Linked DNA regions of Homo sapiens: regions 1 and 2 are each linked to region 3. The links come from fine-mapping of genetic effects on plasma protein levels. A gene starts in region 3. Each other region holds a variant in brackets. All regions are shown on one strand. Distances are between the middles of the regions. Region 1 overlaps MAN1A2 (mannosidase alpha class 1A member 2). Region 2 has its middle 52 kb from the start of TENT5C-DT. Region 3 holds the start of MAN1A2 (mannosidase alpha class 1A member 2).

The links. PIP is the chance, under the fine-mapping model, that this variant and not a neighbour inherited with it causes the effect. The UK Biobank Pharma Proteomics Project read protein levels with antibody pairs (Olink). The fine-mapping took linkage between variants from a reference panel, not from the people measured, so its PIPs are less certain.
Region 1: its variant is fine-mapped to the plasma level of the MAN1A2 protein (UK Biobank, PIP 0.90).
Region 2: its variant is fine-mapped to the plasma level of the MAN1A2 protein (UK Biobank, PIP above 0.99).

The regions. Positions count from the first base shown.
Region 1 is chr1:117,484,010-117,488,368 of GRCh38, reverse strand. The region is part of intron 8 of MAN1A2 (mannosidase alpha class 1A member 2); the gene reads right to left. Among named protein-coding and RNA genes, the nearest start is that of MAN1A2, 120 kb to the right of the region's middle. The variant T/C (reference allele first, on the strand shown) is at 2,303.
Region 2 is chr1:117,551,507-117,555,865 of GRCh38, reverse strand. No RefSeq gene overlaps it. Among named protein-coding and RNA genes, the nearest start is that of TENT5C-DT, 52 kb to the left of the region's middle. The variant C/T (reference allele first, on the strand shown) is at 1,860.
Region 3 is chr1:117,365,125-117,369,124 of GRCh38, reverse strand. MAN1A2 (mannosidase alpha class 1A member 2) reads right to left here and starts at 1,676. Exons shown (of 13, transcript NM_006699.5): 1 at 640-1,676. The coding sequence starts at 941. RefSeq lists an enhancer at 611-750 and a silencer at 1,621-2,440.

The DNA.
Region 1 (4,359 bases), 120 kb before region 3:
CAAAAATTAGCCAGGCATGGTGGTGCACCCCTGTAATCCCAGCTACTTGGGAGGCTGAGGCATGAGAATACCTTGAACCCAGGAGGCAGAAGTTGCAACACTGCACTCCAGCCTGGGCAATAACGTGAGACTCTGTCTCAAGAAAAAAAAAAAAAGCCATTTGCTTTCAACTAAGATTAATGATATTCTTTATTTTCCATCTAAATATCTAAAAGGACACCTCTGCTTTATGAAAGCTTCCTGAATGTCAAACATTAAGTGGCTGGGTATTACAGAAGTCACTTGGAGGAGTAGAAGACAGGGCAATAATAAGATGTCTTATTCTACATTTCAGATAGAACAAGAAATTCACAATTAAATTTTGAATAGCTTTCCATACTCATCATACTTACATTAATAATTTTATAAGGATGGTAATGTATGATGGATTTATACAATAGATTATAGTTAGAAGCTAAATTAATTCTAACAAATTGACACATTTTATAATCACAAAAAAATCATAAAAGTTAACACATAACTTGTAAAATATTAAAACAATACAGAAATGAATAGAGTAGATAGGGAGAGTCCCTTATACTTAATGGGCATTTGGGATGGGGTAAAGGTTAGTGGTACCTTTTCAGCACATTTTTTGGTAATAAACAAGAGAGCAGTGATTTTACATTTTAACTATTTTGAAATATGTATATATCAAAACAACTATGACAAAATATTCCCATCAATATTACAACATCTATTTTGCGGTTATGTTAAAATGTCTTGACTCATTCAGTGACGCTACCATTTTATCAGCTGCCCAGTCTTTTCTTAGACATCAACTGCGTAAAATCATGCTACATTTTAGTTGTCCTTATGTTTTAACTATGACTTTCTTGTATAGCTTTTAGTTTTCTCCAGATTTTCTAACTGGTTTCCTATTGTCTCCCATCACTTTCCCTAATCATTTATTGTATCCTAGCCTATCAACCATGTTACTTATACTGAGTCACCCCTCCCTCCTTACTCCGCTAGAGACCTTCCTCCCAATCTGGTCATTTTCTAGGGATACTCCACAGCTGTCATCTTGCCACTTCTCTTTTCTTGCTTTCCAGAGTTATGCCTATTGCTTCTTCAGTCCTAAGTCTTTGTCTACACCTGTTTTACTGAATCACATTCTGAAATAACTTCCCACAAAAGTGTGTGGGATGCAAACCCTTTCATCCGAAAATGTCATTGCTATGCTCTCTCACTTAATTTTATTTCATACGGGTATCAAATTTAAGGTTGGAAATAATTTTCCCCCAGAGCTTCTTGAAAGTACCATTCCAATACCTTCTAACATCCAGTATAATTGATAAGAAATCTGATGTTATTTTTAATAGGCTTAATATGTTCCCAATCTTACTTACTCACACTCAGCTCTCTTCTCCAAGGTTTAGAATCTTCACTTAAACACTGATTAAATTTAGGTATAGTCTTTTTTTTATTTGTTTGTTCTTACAGTCATTGTGCTAGGTACAATGTGCTAGGTACAAACTAAAGATCAGTATCTTTCAGCTCTGGGAAAAATCTTTTCTACTATTTCTTTGATATTTTCTGTACTCCACTTTCTCAGTTATCTCCTCTGAAACGCTCATTAATTGGAAATTGAACCTCCTGGACTGAGTTTCTATTATTTTCTCTCAAATTTTAGTCCTTTATTCTCCCTGTATATTCCAGGAACTTTATTAAATCAATTTTATCTTTAGTCTCTTCACTGAAGCTTTAATGTCAGCAATCATACTTTTAATCTGAACTCTTTTTTCATTCTCTAATTGCTTCCTTTTCATAGCATCCTATTTTTACTCTATGAATATAACTTCTCCGAGTTATTTGACTAAAGTGGAGAATTAAAAATGTTTATAGAATTGTCTGTCTCCTGTGGGATCCCTTTTTTGACTATATTTTTACTGTGAAATTTAACATGTATACAGAAAAGCATATAAAACATAAATGTTCTCCTTATTATAGAGAATACTTGTATAACCCACAGTCAGAACAATACCTTCCATGTATCCCACAAAATCATAATTCCCACCCACCAAAAAAGTAACCAATATCTTAACTTTTGGGGTAACTACTTCTTTGAATTTTTAATACATTTACCATCTGATACCCTCTCCCAAGTACTATGAGCTTATTTTGCCTATTGGTATATTTAATATATTAATTAAATGTAACCGTATTGTCATGTCCAGCTTCTATAGCTCAAGATTCAACCATGTTGTTATATGTAACTATGTATCATTTATTTGCATTTCTGTATGTTATCCCACTGTAG[T/C]AGTCAACCATTATTTAATTATCCGTGCTTAAGAATAAAGTTCTGGGTAGCTAGTGTGGGTTTCCTCTACTGAATAGCAGGTGTTCCTCCACTGAGTAGACCTAATTGTCACTAATTCTATCCCCTGAGTGGGAATACTGACTGGCTGCTTTCTATGTAGAATACTTTGAGGAAGGATGGGCTAACTGGTAGGCTTTGTTTCAGAATCAGGAATGGATATTGAGGGACTGTGGACCTGGTTAAATTTCACAATGAAGGGAGACTTTATTTTGGGAAACTAACATCCATATTGAAAGCTTTAACTTTCCTCAATGAAATCATGTGATTTTTTAAAAAAGAGGGCTGTATAGTTATTCTAGTGGTAAATACCAGGGATGGAGGTGGAACATAAGGATTTCAGGTAGAGCCCATGTTCCACATAACGACCTTGAATAAATATCTGGTTTTTGCTGTACTTTGAATATATTTGTTTACTGGTATCTATTGTTTATGAACCCAAAATCTCTCTGGGATTCCATCAGTTACCTTTCCTGTAGTCCCTCTGTAGCCATTCCCAGCCACTCTATGTTCTGCAAATTTGTTGAAATATCTTGTCCATTATTACCTCCCCCTTGCCTTCAAATCTTTTTATTATTATGAGTTTATGCCTATTTATAAATATTTATCTACTTTCATTTCATTATGGTCTCAAGAAAGATGAATGGCCACAGTGGTGACGTTATAGTTCAATCTTCTTCCATGAAGCAGAAGTACTACTATAACCTTATCAAGTTCACTACTTCTTTGATAACTGCAATTAGTTAATACTATACATGCTTAACTTCTTATTCCTCTGTCTCATAATCTGCTCCCATTGTTTGTCCTATCATGAATAAAAACCAAAGCACATGGAAGCTAAAGGAATCTTGGTTTAATTCCTGTATTTATTTATGGCATGGAACTTGTAAGTTTATAACCACTTTGTTATTCAAGATGATTTTACATAGAAAACCTTTTTAAAATGTGTTGCACAGAAAAACCTTTGAAAAATCATAAAACATTTAACCCTTGAACACAGATTTGAACTGCGTGGATCCACTTACACGTGAATTTTTAAAAATAAATATATTGAAATTATCTTTAAGATTTGCAACAATGTGGAAAAACATATAGACAAGCCACATGGCCTAGAAATAGAGAAAATATTAAGAAAGAGTTGAGTGTGTCACGAATGAATAACATATGTGTAGATACTAGTCTATTTTACCATTTAGTATCATGAAATACAAATCTATTATAAAAAGTTAAAATGTATTAAAACTTACATATACACAGACATACATGGTGCCATTGATAGTCAAGAGAAATGTAAACAAATGTAAAGATGCAGTATTAAATCATAAATGTGTAAGATTTATTGCAGTACATACTTTACTACTGTAATAATTTCACAGACACCTCTTTTTGCTATGCAGTGAACTCAAGTGTTAAGAGCATCCACTTAAAACAACTTGTGACACTAATCATCTCCGTGTCTTCAGTAAATTGCATATTGCAGTAAAAAGCGATTTCTCATGGTTCTTGCATATTTTTCATTGTTTGGCACAGTAGTGTAAACCTTCAAAAACACCATGGGACCCATATGAAGTGCCACTAGCAATCTGAAAGTGTTCCCAAGAAGCAGCGAAAAGTCATGATATTACAACAAAAAGTTGGACTGTTTGATTTGTACTGTAGATTGAGGTTTGCCACTGTAGTTGCCACCATTTGACACAGACTATTCATCTTGTAAACAGACAACATAAATTTACAACATCAATAAACACAGTACAGTACTGTGTATGTATTTTCTCTTCCTTATGATTTTCCTCATGACATTTTATTTTCTCTGGCTTACTTTAAGAATACAGTATATAATATATATAACATACGAAATATGCACTATGTTATTGGTAAGACTTCTGGGTCAACGGTAGGCTATTAGTAGTTAACTTCTGGGGGAGTCAAAAGTTATATGTGAAGTTTTGATTACACAAGGGGTTGGTGACTCTAACCCCCCTGTGTTGTTCAAGGGTCAA
Region 2 (4,359 bases), 190 kb before region 3:
AGGCTCCTTCTTGTCTCTGGATTCTTGTTTGGTAAAATTCATCTCATGTGAATGTATTCCCTTGTACTTCTAGATTGCATTAACCCAGTCCCTTCATGGGCTGCCCACTTGAGATCCTAGATCTCACACCCTGTGCTGTAGTGTTTTATCCAACCCTGGAAGAGACGGAAGGAGAAAAACTCTGAAGGAATGGCTAGTTGGCCTAGCTTCAAGAATAGCTACAAGAGATGTAGGGAGCTTGCATCTCATATAGTTTTCTATACACTTATCACTGATACAACCCCAGCTTTCACCTATCCACTGAAAACTCCTCTCAATCACTCAAATAAATGAGGGTATTCCATCATTTTCCACTTCCTGGAGCTCTATCTCTGGATCCATTTGACCATACTCCACTCTGGACTGGTTGACATCTATACTTCGTACACAGCTGTTATCCTGAAATCTCCTTTCACCGTCATTTTGAGTTTTTCTCCTTCTGTCTCTTAAGTTGAAACTGTTTCCTGAATTACATATCTTCTTCTTTTCAACCTATCCATCTGACAAATGGCTAATATCTAGAATCACAAGGAACTTAAACAAATTTACAAGAAAAAAACAAACAACCCCATCAAAAAGTGGGCAAAGGATATGAACAGACACTTCTCAAAAGAAGACATTTATGCGGCCAACAAACATATGAAAAAAAGCTCATCATAATTGGTCATTAGAGAAATGCAAATCAAAACCAAAAGGTCATACCATCTCATACCAGTTAGAATGGTGATTATTAAAAAGTCAGGAAACAACAGATGCTGAAGAGGATGTGGAAAAATAGGAACGCTTTTACACCGTTGGTGGGAGTGTAAATTAGTTCAACCATTGTGGAAGACAGTGTGTGATTCCTCAAGGATCTAGAACCAGAAATACCATTTGACCCAGCAATCCCACTACTGGGTATATACCCAAAGGATTATAAATCATTCTATAAAGACACATGCACACATATGTTTATTGCAGAACTATTCACAATAGCAAAGATTTGGAACCAACCCAAATGCCCATCAGTGATAGACTGGATTAAGAAAATGTGGCACATATACATCATGGAATATTATGCAGCCATAAGAAAGGATGAGTTCATGTCCTTTGCAGGGACATGGATGAAGCTGAAAACCATCATTCTCAGCAAACTAACACAGGAACAGAAAACCAAACACCACATGTTCTCACTCATAAGTGGTAGTTGAACAATAAGAACACATGGACACAGGGAGGGGAACATCACACATCGGGGCCAGTTATGGGGGTGAGAGGCTGGTGGGGGGATAGCATTAGGAGAAATACCTAATGTAGATGATGGGTTGATGGGTGCAGCAAACCACCATGGCACATGTATACCTATGTAACAAACCTGCATGTTCTGGACATGTATCCCAGAACTTAAAGTATAATAATAATAATAAAAAAATAATCCTTAGAGGAAAATTACCAAATTATCATTATTTCCCTATAAAATTAAAGAGGCAAAACACAACTAAGATAAGGTTTCTGCCCACAACACATTTACAGTTTTAAAAGAGATTAATAGGTTGGTAGGTTTAAGTTATACAAACATTAAGCAGTGACCAGGTACAGTGGCTCATACCTGTACTCCCAACACTTTGGGAGGCCAAGGTAGCCAGATTGCCTGAGCCCAGGATATCGAGACCAGCCTGGGCAACATGGTGAAGCCCCGTCTCTACAAAAATACAAAAAATTAGCCAGACATGCTGGCATGCTCCTTTAGTCCCAGCTATTCAGGAGGCTGAGGTGGGAGGATCACTTGAACCAGGGAGGTTGAGACTGCAATACGGCATGATTTTGCCACTGCACTCAGC[C/T]TAGCAACAGAGTGAGACCCTGTCTAAAAATAAATAATAAAAATATTAAGCAAAGCAAGGCATAATTTAGTACTAACTTGATTGATGCAGAACCTATAGGAGATGTGAAGCCACTTTCTTGGTTTATACTTTTGTTTTGGTAAAAGACCTCCTAAGAAATGGTGCATAGTATGAATAGGGTGCATATAGTTCAATTCTGGCCTTGGTATTAAGCCTCAGCCTTAAAAAGGCCAAAAAGCCAAATGCATACTTAAACATAATTTCTGGCATCTATAAATTTTTACTAATCAATAATCTTGTGACCTTCAGGGTTACCACCATATCTAATTAGTGCTGAATCATCAGTAATGTGAATAAGCCACACCATTCAAATTATTGCTAATATTAGAATATTCACCTTCAAATATCAGTAGTCACTTTAGATGACTTTTGGAGTGAGAATCTACTTGTGTGCTTTATACATTGTAAATCTATCAGTTACTTGAACATGTACTCCCAAACACAAAATGCATTTGTATTATTCAAAAATTGAACATCTGGTAAAATTTGGCTGTGAATTCATCTGGCCCTGGGCTTTTCTTGGTCAGGAAATTTTTTATTACTAGTCAATTTCATTACTCGCTATTGGTCTGTTCAGGATTTCTATTTCTTCCTAGTTCAGTCTTGGAAGGTAGTACATTTCCAGGAATGTATCCATTTCCCCTAGGGTTTCTAGTTTGTGAGCATAGAGATGTACAAAGTAGTCTCAATTGATCTTTTGTATTTCTGTGGTATCAATTGTAATGTCACCTTTATGATTTCTGATTGTGTTTATTTGAATCTTCTCTCTCTTTTTCTTGGCTAGTCTAGCCAGTGGTCTATCAATTATGTTTATCTTTTCAAAGAACCAACTTTTTGTTTCATTGATCCTTCATATCATGTTTTTTTTTTTTTTTTTTTTTGTCTCAACCTCACTTAATTCTGCTCTAATCTTTGCTATTTCTTTTTCTTCTGCTAGCTGTTGGTTTGGTTTGTTTTTATTTTTCTAGTTCCTTGAGGTGTGACATTAGGTTGTTGATTTTAGGTCTTTCTATCTTTTTAATGTAGCCATTTAACACTATAAGCTTCCAGCACTGCTTTTGCTATATCCCAGAAGTTTTGGTGTGTTGTGTCTCTTTTCATTTGTTTCCATCTTTTTAATTTCTGTATTAATTTCATCATTTACTCAAAGATCATTCAGGAGCAACTTGTTTAGTTTCCATATATTCAAATACTTTAGAGAGCTCCTCTTGATATTGAGTTCTAATTTTATTTCACAGTGGTCTAAAAAGATATTTCATATGATTTTTTAAAAATTTATTGAGACTTGCCTTATGGCCAAGAATATGGTCTATTTTCCAGAATGTTCCACATTCAGATAAGAAAAATGTATATTTTGCAGTTGTTGGGTAGAATGTTCTGTAAATGTCTATTAGGTAGGTCCATTTGGCCTAGAGTCCAGTTTAAGACTTTGCTGATTTTTTGCCTTGATGATCTGTCTAGTCCTGTCAGTGGGGTGATAAAGTTCCCCACCATTATTGCATTGCTGTCTCTTTTCTTAGGTCTAGTAGTATTTGTTTTATGGATCTTGGTGCTTTGGTATTGGGTGCATATATATTTGGGATAGTTATATCTTCTTGTTAAATTGAACCATTTGTCATTATATAATAACTTTTGTCCTTTTTTACAGTTATTGATTTAAAGTCTGTTTTATCTGACATAAATATAGCTACTCCTGCTCATTTTTGTTTTCTGTTTGCATGGTATAGTTTTTCATATGTTTATTGCAGCACTATTCACAATAGCAAAGTCATGGAATCAACCTAAGTGTCCATCTACAGATGACTGGATAAAAAATGTGGTAATTGTATTTATATATATATACACACACACACACATACACACACACACACGATGGAGTGCTACACAGCCACAAAAATGAAATTATGTCTTTTGCAGCAACATAAATGGAGTTGGAGGCCATTACTATAAGTGAAATAACTCAGAAACAGATAATCAAATACTACATGCTCTCACTTATAAAGGGAGCTAACCAGTGGGTACACATGGACATAGAGAAGGAACTAACAGACACTGGGGACTTCAAAAGTGGTAACAGTAGGAGGGGGTAAGGGTTGAAAAATTACCTGTTGGGTACAGTGTTTACTATCGGGGTGATGGACACGCTGGAAACCCAAACTTCACCATTACACAACATATCCATGAAGCGAACCTGCATCGGTACCCCCTCAAACTATTAAAAAAATTGAAATGCTATAAAAAGTAATGAGCAATTTTACATATGAAAACAATTATTAAAAACAGCCAAATAGCTGAATATATAGGAAACAGAGTGTTGATTTGAAGGTTAAAAAAGAGTGGATTCGTGACATAAACATAGGAAGAACTTCATATCCTTTTTGAATAAAATGTTAATTAAAAACTAAATGATACAAGAAAGAATAACAAAGATTAGATTATA
Region 3 (4,000 bases):
ACAAAGTGCAATAACTTAGGATTCAATACCTTTTAACTTAACTGATTTCATATACAGCACCAACACACATCCCCAAAAAAAGAACAAAAATCAGGATATTTTCACGTTAAGAAATGACAGGTATATTCTGCCCACGTTTGTCATCCTAAAAAGCTGACTCACTACTAAGCTTCAACTACAAGCCAGAAAACGAGAGCCCTCTGGGAGAGCACACCCAAAAGAGCTGTCAAGGTTCGATGCTTTGATTTCACATGGTGGCACAATGACTGACTCCAACACGTTATTAATAAATGCAGGCACAGCTTATGTCACCATTTCTTTAGGTTAAGTTTTCATACCTCCCTTCCCAGATGTCCACATTAGACACAACTCTGAACGCAAATGTTTTTCTTATATAAAACCGAAGAGAAGAACGACTTAGGTAGGACTCCAGTCCTACCAGTCTATGGACTCTACCATAGACTGGAGGTAGAGTCCCTCCAGTCTATGGTTTTATTCAGCCAGTCTTGAAGTAACAATACAATATTTATGACTCGAAAAATTACATTTTACTGCAAGAAAAAAAAAAGACAGATTCGATCCAATCACCGTACCTTGCTCTGCCAAATGTTAGTACCAGAACTTCTGAAATAAACAAACCTGTGTCTATGTTCATCGGGTCCATGGATCAGGAAGACTCCGGGGTTTTTAGCCCCTTTACCGGCATCTACATGTGGAATTAACACATCTTCTAAACCCAAATCAAAGCGTTTGTGTTTTGAAGAGTCTGGAAGGAAAAAGAATGCCCCAAAACACAGAGTGATGAAGGCACTAAGAATAAGGAGAAGAATAAACTTCTCAGAAAGTCTCAAGGTAGCCCTGTGATGTGGGAAGGAAGGCGGCCCCAGGTTCAGAGGTGGTATCCTACGTCCAGAGAGGGGCAGCAGGGCTGGGGTAGTCATCGTTTACGCTCTTGGAGAGAATACTTTAGAAAGTTCTCATCTTATGTCAAATGTAGAATACATTGAACTGTCTTCAAAATCTTGGCCAAAATGGGAAAACTCAATTTTGCTCCTCTTAAAGGACTGTTGTGCTTTTTAAGAGGGCACGTCATTCACGCCCATCCATTCCCACTCAGAAACGTGTGTGACCTCCCCCAAACGATCACAAGTTTAGGTCCTGCGATATCCTCTTCAACATCTGTACTTCATCGGATTATTACAAGCCTCCTCTTCATTCCTAGGGGTAGATCAGGCAAGCCACACTGCAGAAAAGCTGCAAGGTGGGTTCTTCCATTCCTGCACCTCAGTGAGATGCTCAAACGTAGTCTTCCGCCCCGAAAGGGAGACTGGCGACATCCGAGGAGTTGTAGAAGGTTCACTTGATCTCCTTCGACGCTTCTATTCCAGAATCTCTTAACCTTAGCGGTGGAAAAAATAAGGGTCTCCCACGGACGTCTGCAAACAGGGAGGAAGGTCTCCCACTTCGCTGGGAAGCCGAAGCAGCGGCGCTGGGCGAAGTAGCAGGAAGGAGTTCTCGGCCGCCCGCGCTTCCCGGCGCTGCCTGGCAGGAACCTGGCGCCCGGCTGAGTCCCGCTGCTGCCCACTCGACGGCTGGCGCGAAGGGCAATAGCGTCCGAAACACCTGAGTCCGGCCAGCCGCCGCGGCCGCCGCCGCTGTTGCTACCGCACGGGTCTGTCAGGGAGCGGAACTTCCTCCTCCGGCGGCCACTGAGAAGCCCCGGCGTGTCCTGGGGGAGGGGAGGCGCGGCGGCCGCCCCCGCCGAGCTCCTCCTCCTCCTCCTCCTCCTCTTCCTCCTCCTCCTCCTCCTCTCCGCGGCCGGTTCAGTGAACCCCGGCGCCTGCTCCCCGAGCTAGGCCGCCGGCCGCAGTGGCCGAGCCCTCGCGCCTAAGAAGCCGAGCCGGGGCCCACGCTCCGAGAGCCCGGGGTAGGCGCCGGCTCATTCCTCACTCAGCCCTGGAGCGGCGGGAGGGCCTGGGCGCGCGGGAGCAGCCGCGCCTCGGGCGGGCAGAGGTCGGCCGCGTCTCCTTCCTGCCCGGCCGCGGGGGCCTCCTCCGCGCCGCCTCCGGTGGCTCGCAGCTGCTGGCTCTGGCGGCGGCTGCCAGAGAGGCAGCGCGCCCACGCCGCTCGGGGCTGCGGCCCGGTCCCCGTACCCTGCCTCCCCAGGCCTGGTGAGCGCAGCAGCTGCTGGGCCGACACCCGTTGGGCTCACGCCGGAGAGGAACCGGAGGGCGGGGGCGATGGGACCCGGGCCGGCCTACCGGCCCCGGCTCGCGAGTGGGCGTCCCCGGGCGGCGGAGTGTGAGGTGCGCGCGCACGCTCCCGGCTCCGCTGCCGCCGCCCCTCCCCCACCCAGCCTGGCTGCCCGGGCTCCGGCCTCGCGCCGCTGCCGGCTCCAGCAGCCCGAAAGCGTACTGCTGCCGCCGCCGTCTGAGCGCGAAAGAAGAGAAGGTCGCCGATCTGCGCTGCCACGAGAACTTCACCGGTGCCCAGGGCCTTGCCACCGCCAGTTCGTGGGGTTGACCCAGCGTTTGGGCGAGAGGGAGCGAGGGGTTGGGTCGCGAAGGTTTCGCTGAAATGTAGTGTCACCGGAGTTAATGGCTTCTGATGGCTTAGGTTAACGTTTACTGTGATTCTTTGGAAGTCTTGTCTTCAGCGATAGACCGTCAGGCCCGAGGATTCAGCAACAGGGTCTCAAACTTCCACGCAGCAGCCCATGCTCACGTTATTGGGCCCCCGAGGCTCGATTAATAGAGCACCAACATGTGCCATGTTACGTTTTTAAAATAAAGTGGTGACCCTGCTCCTTCAGCTGGGCTTCCTTTCAGAGGAATCTAGGTACCCCCGATATGACAGGCGTCTCTTCATTGTTCAGTTTCTGGGGCACGTTCTATCATCTTCACACACCTCATCAACCCCCTTCCCATAAAAGAGAAAATGGATGAATAAGGAGGTGCTGAAACCCAAAAAGGCGACAATATTGTTTACGTTCAGGCTTAAAAACAATCTGAATCAATTCTGTTCTCCGTAGTATTGAGGAGAGCCATGTTGTGATTAAGTGCAAAAGATTTCCTTGCAAGATACATAGACTCTTGCATCCGATTTACTTGCAGGTTGTTTTTGTTCTAATATTGTCATTCCCTGTACACATCCTTTACTGATGACTGGGAATTGGAGAGGAGGCCCTTAAATGTCAGGAGAGTAAGTCAGCCTTAGCTTAAAAATCAAGCAGAAAAGTCTCATGTTCATTGGCACACTTGTAACTACATTCCAGTCTCCCAGTCTGCATTATTTCTAGAAGCTCTGCATATCTAACTGCCTACCACATGACAAAAGTCATTGTCATTGATCCTGCTTCACCAAATAAAAAGTAAAAATATTGAGGGCCACCTCTCACCAGTTCACCCAGGGAGACTGGTAAGCAAGGAGTGCCCGGTCCCTAGTGAGATTTATGTTGAACATTTGTGAAGAGTAGATATAAGAAACTTTTAGCCTTCCCAATATGTCTTTATAAAATGTGCCAAATTTAAGAATAAGTCTCTAATGTTGAGACTCCGTAAGCCAAAGTGGGGGGGGCGGTGGGGAGGCGGGGAAGAACACACTGTTTTCCTACTGTTGAGATCATTAGTTTCCATGAAAAGTTCAGGGGAAATAAATACTGAACTCTGAATGAAATAGCAAGTTATATAAATCTTGAAAAATAAATATTACCTAGGTTAACACTAGACTTAACCACAAGAGATTTCAATCATGAAACCTGACATAACCTAGTTGACAAGTATAGCTTAAGCAAGTAAGACCTCATTGCTGATGGAGAAGACCCCTTTTCCTTTGCTTGTCTGTTTTGCAAAATTCATTTTTCCTTCATGAGAGTAAAAACAATTTAGGGGTTATTGCAGATGTCCAAATGCAGCCAGCAATTTTAAAGTCATTGATGATACCGTCAGTTATCACACTCCTACACCAGCAATGAAAATACTGTATACATAGTATTACATAT